Linked DNA regions of Homo sapiens. The protein of the gene in region 3 interacts with the protein of the main gene of each other region in a pairwise test. Each region holds a gene or a part of one and is shown on either strand. Other genes may lie near its edges. The genes, in order: NEFL, SYAP1 and NDN.

What was found.
Region 1: the proteins of NDN (region 3) and NEFL interact in binary tests that used the Homo sapiens proteins (3 or more experiments, as listed by UniProt).
Region 2: the proteins of NDN (region 3) and SYAP1 interact in binary tests that used the Homo sapiens proteins (3 or more experiments, as listed by UniProt).

What each region holds. Positions count from the first base shown.
Region 1 is NC_000008.11:24,954,823-24,958,572, forward strand, and holds the start of NEFL (neurofilament light polypeptide), read right to left. Parts: upstream 1,791-3,750; 5' UTR 1,694-1,790; coding exon 650-1,693; intron 1-649. UniProt on the Homo sapiens protein: Neurofilaments usually contain three intermediate filament proteins: NEFL, NEFM, and NEFH which are involved in the maintenance of neuronal caliber.
Region 2 is NC_000023.11:16,757,596-16,761,345, reverse strand, and holds part of SYAP1 (synapse-associated protein 1), read right to left. Parts: intron 1,115-3,750; coding exon 987-1,114; 3' UTR 1-986.
Region 3 is NC_000015.10:23,685,318-23,689,067, reverse strand, and holds NDN (necdin), read left to right. Parts: upstream 1-1,762; 5' UTR 1,763-1,850; coding exon 1,851-2,816; 3' UTR 2,817-3,668; downstream 3,669-3,750. UniProt on the Homo sapiens protein: Growth suppressor that facilitates the entry of the cell into cell cycle arrest.

The DNA.
Region 1 (3,750 bases), on a different chromosome or scaffold from region 3:
GAGATCTTTTTAAAATTGTATTTTTTCTACTCCCCAGAAGATGGAGATGTTTAAACAGAAATGTTGTAGAAGATTTTACACATAAAGAAAAAAAGAAAAAAAAAAGGTAAAAGGAAATGGTTTACTATGAACATCACTAGTTAACTACCTAAAACAATGTTGACTATTTTCCTGTCTACCTACTAAATAAAGGAAGGGAGTGGTTGGTAAAACTAGTCATAAAGCATGCTGGTCACAGTAATCCTTCAGAATTAATTGAGAGTTGTTCACTCTACTATTTATTAACTAGATGATCCGATAGTTGCTGCAAAGTAACTTGTGGTTAATGCAGGTCAGTAGAGAGCTGATCTCACTGCAGGCCGGAGGCAACGCCCAATTCCCACGTCTTCCCCTCCCCCACCCAACAAGGGCTGGGCAGCTTTAATGCGGAACGCCGGTGCAGCAGCACGGAGCACACTCCCAGACTACAGTGGCGCCCGCACTCACGCCCTTCAAGTGCCCCACCCCTCCCACACAGTGGCCAAGGAGCCAAGCCCTATCCCTAAGAGCTGCGTGCAGCCGCACCACCCCTGGTCTCCACTTTCTGGGCGCACCAACTCCCCCCCTTGCTCGAGTCCCCCGCCCCCCTGTGTTTCTGGCCGTGCCGCACCTGCATAGCGCTGATGTCGGCGTTCTGCTTGTCCTCCAGCTCCTGCAGCTGCTTCTCCAGCGCTTCATTCATGCCCCGGCATGCTTCGATTTCCAGGGTCTTGGCCTTGAGCAGACGACGGCTCTCGGACACCTCGTCCTTGGCGGCGCGCACGGCGTCGGTGTTCTTGGCGGCGCTCTCGGTCAGCACGGTGAAGCGGCTCTTGAACCATTCCTCAGCGTTCTGCATGTTCTTGGCGGCCAGCTTCTCGTACTGCGCGCGGATGTCCTTGAGCGCGGCGGAAAGGTCGGGCTTGGTCACGTCCATCTCCACGGAGATCTGCGCGTACTGGATCTGCGCCTGCAGTTCGGCGATCTCCTCTTCGTGCACTTTCTTCAGAAAAGAGATTTCGTCCATCAAGCTGTCGATGCGCTTCTCGAGCTCGGCGCGAGCGAGCGCCGCCTCGTCGGCGCCTTTGCGCGCTTCCATCAGCCGGCCCTCGGCGTCCTCGCGGCTCAGCACCTCCTCTTCATAGCGCGCCTGCAGGTTGCGCAGGGTCTCCTCCAGCCCTTCGCGCTCGCCCTGGAGCGCCTGCTTCTCGTTGGTGGCATCTTCCGCCGCCAGGCGCAGGTCGCGGATCTCCTGCTCGTACAGCGCCCGGAAGCGGGATGGCTCGGAGTGCTTCTGGCGCAGCACCAGCAGCTCGGCTTCCAGGACCTTGTTCTGCTGCTCCAGCTCGTGCACGCGCTCGATGAAGCTGGCGAAGCGGTCATTGAGGTCCTGGAGCTGCGCCTTCTCCTGCGTGCGGATGGACTTGAGGTCGTTGCTGATGGCGGCTACCTGGCTCAGGTCGAGGTTCTCCAGACTGGGCATCAACGATCCAGAGCTGGAGGAGTAGCTGCGGCGCACGGACAGCGAGGAAGACACCGGCGCCGAGTAGCTGGAGTAAGCTGAGCGTGCGGTGCTGTAGCCGCTGCGCACGCTGGAGATGTGCACCCGGGGCGTCTCCACGTAGCGCCGCTTGTAGGAGGTCGAGTAGTACGGCTCGTAGCTGAAGGAACTCATGGTGGCGGCCGGTGGCTCCCCGGCCCGCGGCGGCGGTGGGAGCCCGGAGAGAGAGGACAGGGGAGAGAGGGAAGGGGGAGGATGGATGGCTGTGTGCGGCTCGGCGCCGTTCTGCCACCCCTATTTATACGCCGGGAGGCTCCTGACGCAGCCTGCGATCGATCACGGCACGCCGGCCAGTGGGGGCAGCGCGCTGCTGCAGCCAAGGCGAGGATTCTGCGCAAAAGGGAAGGCGGGGTCGAGCTACGGCCCGAGGAGCTGCGGCGGTCGTCCTTTCCACTTTGCTCAGAGGGCCCTGATTTTCTCTGAGATCCCATGCCCCCTCACTCATTTCCCTTCTGTACTCACTCACGCAGCCCCTCCCGTCCTGCATTGCCCAGACCCCGTGACACTTGGATCCTTAAGTTGCCCCCAAAACAGGTTCTTGCTCCCTTTTGACACCCTAGTTTTCTGTATCCCGTCACCTCGCAGACACCCTGTCCCCCCAACTCGCCCTTTTCCCACCAGGAACCTCCTTAATTTTTTCCCTTGGTGTTTACGGTGATGGTGCGGCTAGGGAATTTTAGATACAAATAAATAGGCTAGGTTATGTGTATGCAGTATGTATGGAGAAGAGTTTTAATTTCTTTCTAGCTTTCTGGCACTTTCTGCAATTCATCTTCCTTTCTCCTGATTATTTTTCTTTTTCTTTAATGAGCTGCTTAACACATAGGGAATGTGCGCGCGAGTGCGCGCGCGCGCGCGCACACACACACACACACACACACACACTCGTGAAACTGCGGCACTACTGCAGGTATTGGTTTAGCATTTTTAAACCTTTACAGCAGTTAATCCGCCTGTTAGTGTTTCTAGATTTTCACATTTCTTAACTGAGAATGAAGCCGCAGATGGCTTTAACGTGTTGCAGTGTGTGGGTGGTGGAGGGCAGAGAAAGAGTTGGAAACACAGAGACTGACTTGCTGAGGCAGCCGCGCGCTCCGCAGCCGGGAGCTTCAAGCTGCCTGGATCCTCACCAAGCTAAATTCCTGCTTGCTACCACCAACCGCAGCACATTTAAAGTCCGCTTTCCTCTTTTTACACATGTGTAGCACACGACCTGATGATTTCGATAAGCCTTGCAGTTGGCTGATTTTCAGGGAAGCCGCTGCGGCCAGCCCTGAGCGCTGGGTGTGGTCTCTGGGGAGGAGAACTCGGCACCCAGGCTTCTTCAGGAACGGATAGAAAATAGCCATAGCCGCGTGACTCTTCCCCCGATACAATGTAATAACCCGAAAACAGATGCAGTCAGGAATGCATGGATTTCCTTCAGGAAGCACCCAGATGCTTGAAACTGGCGCACGCGGTAGCGCACGTGGATACAACCCTACGGTTTGCAGGGCATTTTCACACGCATGATGTTAGGAGTCCCCCAGGTTTCATGGAGGGATTGCAGAGATTTACACGAAACACCTAAGATTTATCTGAGCAAGCATTTAGTTTTTGTTTTATTTGTATATCGCAGCATTTGATGTGCAACTTATGTTTTTTTTAAGAGGCAAACTGAGGGGGAATATGGTAACTGTTTTCAAATAGAGAAGCCGGAATGGCTTCCCCTGTGATACTTGGAGGGTGAAGTATTTGCAGTGGTGCAGTTGCTTCTGGAGACATTTCACTCCTCTCCCGAGGAAAGGATGGGGTGAGGCTTATCCTCAGAGGCCCTTTCTCATCCCCCCCCCCAAAAAAAATACCTGTGATTGTGATAGCCCACCGTCCTCATGATAGACTGCAGCAGATAACTTTCCTCGGGTTTCTAAACAATGTCTGTTGTCGCAAATAATGCAAATTCACAAATATTGAAATTAGTAGTTTAAATCTATCAAGACTAAGTGATCTCAGAGGACCATCCATGCCCAAATATTCTAGATTTCAAGCCTAAGGTCATGAGGCTGTCCTGAATATTGTTTGTCCCTGGCAGGTTTGGTAGGGTACTTACTCTGTTGACTTTTCATAGCCTAGCTATCCTTGGTCTTTTCACTCATGAAATTCAAGGGTGGAATAGGCTTCTCTGGAGGCGG
Region 2 (3,750 bases), on a different chromosome or scaffold from region 3:
ACAAAAAGTATGGAAGGTCCCACTTTGTATAAAAACTGTGATGTAAAATTTCTGGTATAGTTTAAAAAGAAAAGAAAGAAAAGGCCCCAGAGAAAAACAAATATTTTCGCACAGCTTTTTTTTTTTTTTTTTTTTGAGACTGAATCTCACTCTATCACCCAGGCTGGAGTGCAGTGGCGCGATCTCAGCTCGCTGCAACCTCTGCCTCCTGGGTTCAAAAGCCTCCCTAGTAGCTGGGATTACAGGTGCCTGCCACCATGCCCGGCTAATTTTTGTATTTTTAGTAGAGACAGGGTTTCACTATGTTGGCAAGGCTGGTCTCGAACTCCTGACCTCCGGTGATCTGCCCACCTCGGCCTCCCAAAGTGCTGGGATTACAGGCCTGAGCCACCACGCATGGCCTGCACAGTATTTCTTAATGTAAAATTGTGTGATGCTTATATCATTAAAATCAACTTATTTATTTTATCTTTTGGCTTTCAGGTGGAATTTTAGAAAATACCTGGCAAGTGAATAGTTCTGAAAGTGCTTCCTCTTAAGTTCTTTGGTATAATTTGGTCATTTTGATAGTAATCAACCCATTAAGTAGGTACTTTAACACCCTCATATCAATTAAAATGGAATGTGGAGTACAGATATTTAGAAAACCATGACTGAGGAATAAATTATATTTTTGACCTCATGGAAAACAGAACTCTAAAATTTTACTTATGTTTCTGTGGCAAAGATAGCCATACTGCCTATGAAGACATCTCTAACTTTATATTAAAGAAATGTTCTATAAAACATCTCTTTCTGATTATTAGAAGTAACTGTTCTATATACTTTTTTAAAGTAGAAGAGGCAAGTTTCAACTTGAAAAAAGAATAATTTTGAATTTCATAAAATTATACTCTTTCATGCCTTCTGATTCAGTAATTGTCAACATCTAGAATTTAATGTCAGTTTGCAGACTGTTAAGGATTATTCTTCTATTTCAGGAACAGCTAATTTTCCTCTTGAAGCATTTTCTCTATTTCCTTATCCCAGTTTTCATCTCGTTTTTCAGATTCTGTCACCACTTCATATTCTTGAAGTTCCTGCTGCAGTTCTTTTTCCCAATCTGCAGAATCCTCTAAAAGAAACAAAGGAGAAGAAAAAGATTCTCTCTGAATTCATAATGCTGGTGTTCACAATTCGGTCCATCTCAATTACCTACGTAAAGTCCTAGCTGCTGTAATTTTTAGTATCTCAGGCTTCACTACTATGTGTGCTCAGAAAAACTCAGTAAATTTTAACAGTGACCAAGGATAAACACAATTAGAAAGATAAATCTGTTAATGTAGAAGCAAAGGTATCAGATGTCATCAATATATTTTGGGTGTTATTTTGCTTTCCCTATGCCTCTGCATTTCCTTTTATTTAAATGGGTAAATGATAATTAATACTTGGTTGCAAGTTAATTTTTACCACTACCAATGATGATGATGGTAGCAAAAGCAGCTAATGTTTATTGAGCACTTACTGGGCTGGGCACTGGCCCAACTGCTTTCTATGTATCACGCTTTTCACCCTTGGAACAGTCCATGGACAAGGTATTACTATTTGCCACATCTTATAGATAGGGAAATGGAGACTTAGGAGAGGTTAAGCAACTTGCCCAAGATCACACCGTTTGACAGCGACAGATATAAGGATGGAACCACATCTGCAGGCTCCACAGTCTATGCTTAACCACTATACAAAGAGCTGTCTCCTTAAGAGTGGAGACAGACACCGGGGTCTGAAGTCAGCCTGGACTCTCTCATGGTGTTCTGACTGGAGCTCTCACACTGGTCTTCCGCGTTGAGATTTAGACCTGCAACTTTCTACACAGACACTCAATATACCTCTGTGTGTGTAGGATAATGCATCTGCTATGTAATGTTATAAAATGGTGAGAAAACAAACTGGCTATTTAAAAAGTAAAGCTAAGATTCATTTTTGTCTCTTTTTTTTTTTTGAGACAGAGTCTCACTCTGTTGCCCAGGCTGGAGTGCAATGGTGTGGTCTCGGCTCACTGCAACCTCTGCCTCCTGGGTTCAAGCGATTCTCCTGCCTCAGCCTCCCAAGTAGCTGGGATTACAGGTGCCTGCCACCACGCCTGGCTAATTTTTGTATTTTTTTTTTTTTTTTGAGACGGAGTCTTGCTCTGTTGCCCAGGCTGCAGTGCAGTGGCATGATCTCAGGTCACTGCAAGCTCCGCTTCCTGGGTTCAGGCCATTCTGCTGCCTCAGCCTCCCAAGTAGCTGGGACTACAGGCACCCACCACCACGCCAGGCTAATTTTTTTTTTTTTTTGTATTTTTAGTAGAGACGGGGTTTCACCATGTTAGCCAGGATGGTCTCGATCTCCTGACCTCGTGATCCGCCCGCCTCAGCCTCCCAAAGTGCTGGGATTACAGGCATGAGCCACCGTGCCCAGCCTGTCTTTAAAAATAAACCTTAAACTTAGCTATAGAGAAAACAAAAATGAAATGCTTTAATCGTTCTACAGCAGCAACCTCAAAGGAAAAGACACCCTGTGTTGTGCAGGAAGCCACCAATTTCACAAATATTTATTAGGGTGCTTACTGAGTGCTAAGTTCCACATTAGGTACTGTAGGGGGACAGAAAGACAATGTGTAACTGCCCTTGGGGATCTTACAATTTAGTCCTGGAGCCAAGATATATAATATATAAAAGACTATTGGGGCCAGGCATGTTGGCTCATGCCTGTAATCCCAGCACTTTGGGAGGCCGAGGCAGACAGATCACTTGAGGCCAGGAGTTCGAGACCAGCCTGCCAACATAGCGATACAAAACATACAAAAATTAGCCAGGTGTGGTGGTGCACGCCTGTAGTCCCAGCTACCTGGGAGGCTGAGGCAGGAGAATCGCTTGAATCCAGGAGGTGGAGGTTGCAGTGAGCCGTGACTGCACCACTGCACTCCAGCCTGGGCGACAGGGTGAGACTCCATCTCAAAAAAAAAAAAAGACTGTTGGGCTGGGCATGGTGGCACATACCTATAATACTAGCACTTAGAGACACTGAGGTGGCAAGATTGCTTGAGCCCAAGAGTTCAAGATCAGCCTGGGCAATCTGGCAAGACCCCATCTCTACAAAAAATTAAAAAAATTAGCCTGGTGTGGTGGCACACGCCTATAGTCCCAGCTACATTGGAGCCTGAGGTGGGTGGATGGTGTGAGCCTAGGAGTTTGAGGCTGCAGTGAGCTATGACGGCACTATTGCACTTCAGCCTGGGTGACAGAGTGAGACCCTATCTCAAAAAGAAAACTGGTTTTTAAAAGCAGCCTGCTCCTTCCCAGAAGCAATGCTCTTTTGGCATGCAGCAGCTGGGAAAAGAATCTTCCATGTACATGTCTACAGTCAAGGAGAATGCCAGCTTTTAAAAATTTATTATTATTATTATTATTATTTTGAGATGAAGTCTTGCTCTGTCACCCAGGCTGGAGTGCAGTGGTGTGATCTCGGCTCACTGCAACATCCGCCTCCCGGGTTCAAGTGATTGTCCCATCTCAGCTTCCTCCCGAGTAGCTGGAATTGTAGATGTGAGCCACTGCACCAGGGCCAAAAACTTATTATTTATTTATTTATTTATTTTTGAGGCGGAGTCTCGCTCTGTCACCCAGGCTGGAGTGCAGTGACGCGATCTCGGCTCACTGCAAGCTCCGCCTCCCAGGTTCATGCCATTCTCCTGCCTCAGCCTTCCGAATAGCTGGGACTACAGGC
Region 3 (3,750 bases):
CCCGCCTCACCTTCCCAAAGTGCTGGGATTACAGGCGTGAGCCACCGCACCTGGCCTAAATATTTTATTTAAATAGTTAGAAAATAATACATACCCAAACAAAATAAAGAATAATATTGATGGAGATTTAAATGCAATAAATGAGGATTATATTTATGAAGCATGGGGGTAATAAGTCTGTTCAAGAGACATTCTTAAAAACAATGAATATAATTAGCATATTTCTGTAAGATGTTCCCAAGAAAATGGTAGATATCTATAAATAGAAGAAGGAGAAAAAGGAGAAGTAGATGGAGAGGAGAAGGAGGAGGTGGAGGAGGGTGAGGAGGAGGAGAAAAGTGTTGAAATAATTCCAACTAAGACTGATATCTAGGAATTACCCTGGTGAAGTGGGAAGCTTAAGAGTCCTGTTGGAGGGACTGGTGTGGTAATGGCTCTGCCAAAAGTGTTATGTGCGTGCAAACCCAAAGAGAGAAAGCACAGAAAACCTTTCAACATCAACCTGCTTGAGGAAAAATAAAGTGGGAAAAGATACATACTCACAGTGAGGACTCTAGACATGTCAAGACAATTTTTAAATATGCTTTTGGCTTCGAGTGGCAATAACTAGATTCAAGACAGCATATTTAAGAAGCTGCTGATGAGAAGAAACCCGGGAAGAGCTGAAGGACCACATCAGCCCAGACCAAGGATGCTGAAGCAGCATTAAGGTCCCTGGTTTCAGATGCTCAGGCAATGACCCTTTTTTTCATGGAGAGCCTGTAGGAGTGACAGTTTTGTCTTTGCCCACTGGGAATCTGTTTTCCATACCTGGAAAACAGGGTTACCTATGTTTCCCCTGCTACCCTTTGGTCATCTCAGAGACACTACCAGATATTACCCATGGGACCTATTTTTTTTTTAAATCTCAGGAAAGACTTGGGTGTGGCTTCCAACGTGGAGGACTCAGTAGCTTCAGAGAGGGTCCTGAGAGAAGGTGAATTGAAGAATGAGGGTGCTGGGCAGAGGGAAAAGACATTATCATACAAGTTTGTGCTAAAAGATATAGCAATCCTTCTGCTATGGACTAAGTATGGAAAAAAATAAAATGGAATCAAAGTTACCCAAAGGAAGTGTAAAACCCAAATTTATGCCCGTTAAAGCATTAATGATGCTCTAAGTCCACTGCCTACTTAAAAAGTTCATAGTTCACATGGGTTGATAGGAAATTACGTTAACGACACACTGCATTTCCCCTTTTCTTATAGCCTATCTGATTTGGTAGGGAGTCGATCATTTTTTATTGGAATTTCTCAGGATTCCAACCTCAGACATCCACTTTACAGTTTACACATTTTCTTGGACAAGCCCGACTGTTCCTCTCACTGGTTCGCATAAAGCTCATGTTTACAAAGCCGCCCAGACCTTTCTCTGGGACTCTCATATTTAACTTAATTCTGGATATACCCAGGTAAGCGTTTCCCAAGAAACTTGACCCCAACATCCCAAAAACTTAAGGTATCTTTCCCTTAAACTGGCCCCTTCTCCAGTACGCATCCATCTCACTTCTCTCCTGCCCTAGATCTTCTCAGCCCAAACAGGAAACCCCGGGATCGCTCTCCCAGCAGGTGAAGCCTCGCCATGGACCCTCCCCGTCGGGGCCCCGCGCTGCCCCGCCCGCCCCCAGCCGCTGGCCAAGGCCGCGGTCGCGCAGGCGCAGTGCCGCGTCCCGCCGCCGCCCCGCCCTGCCCGTCGCTGCGGAAGGCGCCGCGCGCAGCAACGCGCACTTCCTCTCCAGGAATCCGCGGAGGGAGCGCAGGCTCGAAGAGCTCCTGGACGCAGAGGCCCTGCCCTTGCCAGACGGCGCAGACATGTCAGAACAAAGTAAGGATCTGAGCGACCCTAACTTTGCAGCCGAGGCCCCCAACTCCGAGGTGCACAGCAGCCCTGGGGTTTCGGAGGGGGTTCCTCCGTCCGCGACCCTGGCAGAGCCGCAGAGCCCTCCTCTAGGCCCGACGGCCGCTCCGCAGGCCGCGCCGCCTCCCCAGGCCCCGAACGACGAGGGCGACCCGAAGGCCCTGCAGCAGGCTGCGGAGGAGGGCCGCGCCCACCAGGCCCCGAGCGCGGCCCAGCCGGGCCCGGCACCGCCAGCCCCGGCGCAGCTGGTGCAGAAGGCGCACGAGCTCATGTGGTACGTGCTGGTCAAGGACCAGAAGAAGATGATCATCTGGTTTCCAGACATGGTGAAAGATGTCATCGGCAGCTACAAGAAGTGGTGCAGGAGCATCCTCCGGCGCACCAGCCTCATCCTCGCCCGGGTGTTCGGGCTGCACCTGAGGCTAACCAGCCTGCACACCATGGAGTTTGCGCTGGTCAAAGCGCTGGAGCCCGAGGAGCTGGACAGGGTGGCGCTGAGCAACCGCATGCCCATGACAGGCCTCCTGCTCATGATCCTGAGCCTCATCTACGTGAAGGGCCGCGGCGCCAGAGAGAGCGCCGTCTGGAACGTGCTGCGCATCCTGGGGCTGCGGCCCTGGAAGAAGCACTCCACCTTCGGGGACGTGCGGAAGCTCATCACTGAGGAGTTCGTCCAAATGAATTACCTGAAGTACCAGCGCGTCCCATACGTGGAGCCGCCCGAATACGAGTTCTTTTGGGGCTCCCGGGCCAGCCGCGAAATCACCAAGATGCAAATCATGGAGTTCCTGGCCAGGGTCTTTAAGAAAGACCCCCAGGCCTGGCCCTCCCGATACAGAGAAGCTCTGGAGGAGGCCAGAGCTCTGCGGGAGGCTAATCCCACTGCCCACTACCCTCGCAGCAGTGTCTCTGAGGACTAGCAAAGTCTGGAGGCAGATGAATGGTTTCTGACCCTCACCAGGGCTGTGGAAGGGTGGGGGTGGGTCATTATAGTATTCAGGATTTACAGTGCAGTATTCACGTGTAACTTTTAAGTTTTCAGTACAGTGCTTTTATACCTTTAATGCAATGTTGTATTCATTTGGGTACTATTGTGTAGTATTTAGGATGTATGCATGTTTGTTTATATGTAAGCTTGGTTGGTGCTTTCGCTTTTGTGCTACCTTTCTTGGATTTTTGTACCAGAGATGTGCTAAACTGATGAAATACATTGAGAAAGTTTCCATCTTATTCTTTTATATGGGACTGATGATGTGTGTTGGGGTAGACTGCTCCTGCAGAGTTTGGAAGAAGTCACCAGCAAAGCCGGCCTAACCAAGAAAAGTCAAGGCCCTTCATGACCTTGCTGGGCACAGAAAACACCCTCGTGGAGTACACTAATTTGAACTGGACTGGTCTCAGTGTGAGCACTTGGCACACTTTACTAAACACATATACAACCCCACCGTGAGTCAACTTTAAAGTAAACATTAAAGATTCTTGTGATACAATCATTTTTGGAAAAGTGTACTTTATCATTTTAACAAAGCAGTATGGTTGGGAATGAGACAATTCTCTATTTTACAGTGTATACAGATACAACTATTTCCCCTAATAGGGTGGGAAAAATCGCTACTCATGATTACTCCTAAATTTGTGAAGTTTATAGTTCTATTGTCTTTAAATGTAACTCATGTTTATTTCAAAAACATTCACAAATATAGAAAAGTATACAAAACAAAACAGTAAGATTGTCTGTAATCACATCATATGGGAATAAAAAACAAAAATAATTTCCTTCCCTTAAGTTTCTACATTTTATCAAAATTAATAGATGTCTTGTGACATCTATTAATATACATATAACATATTTAT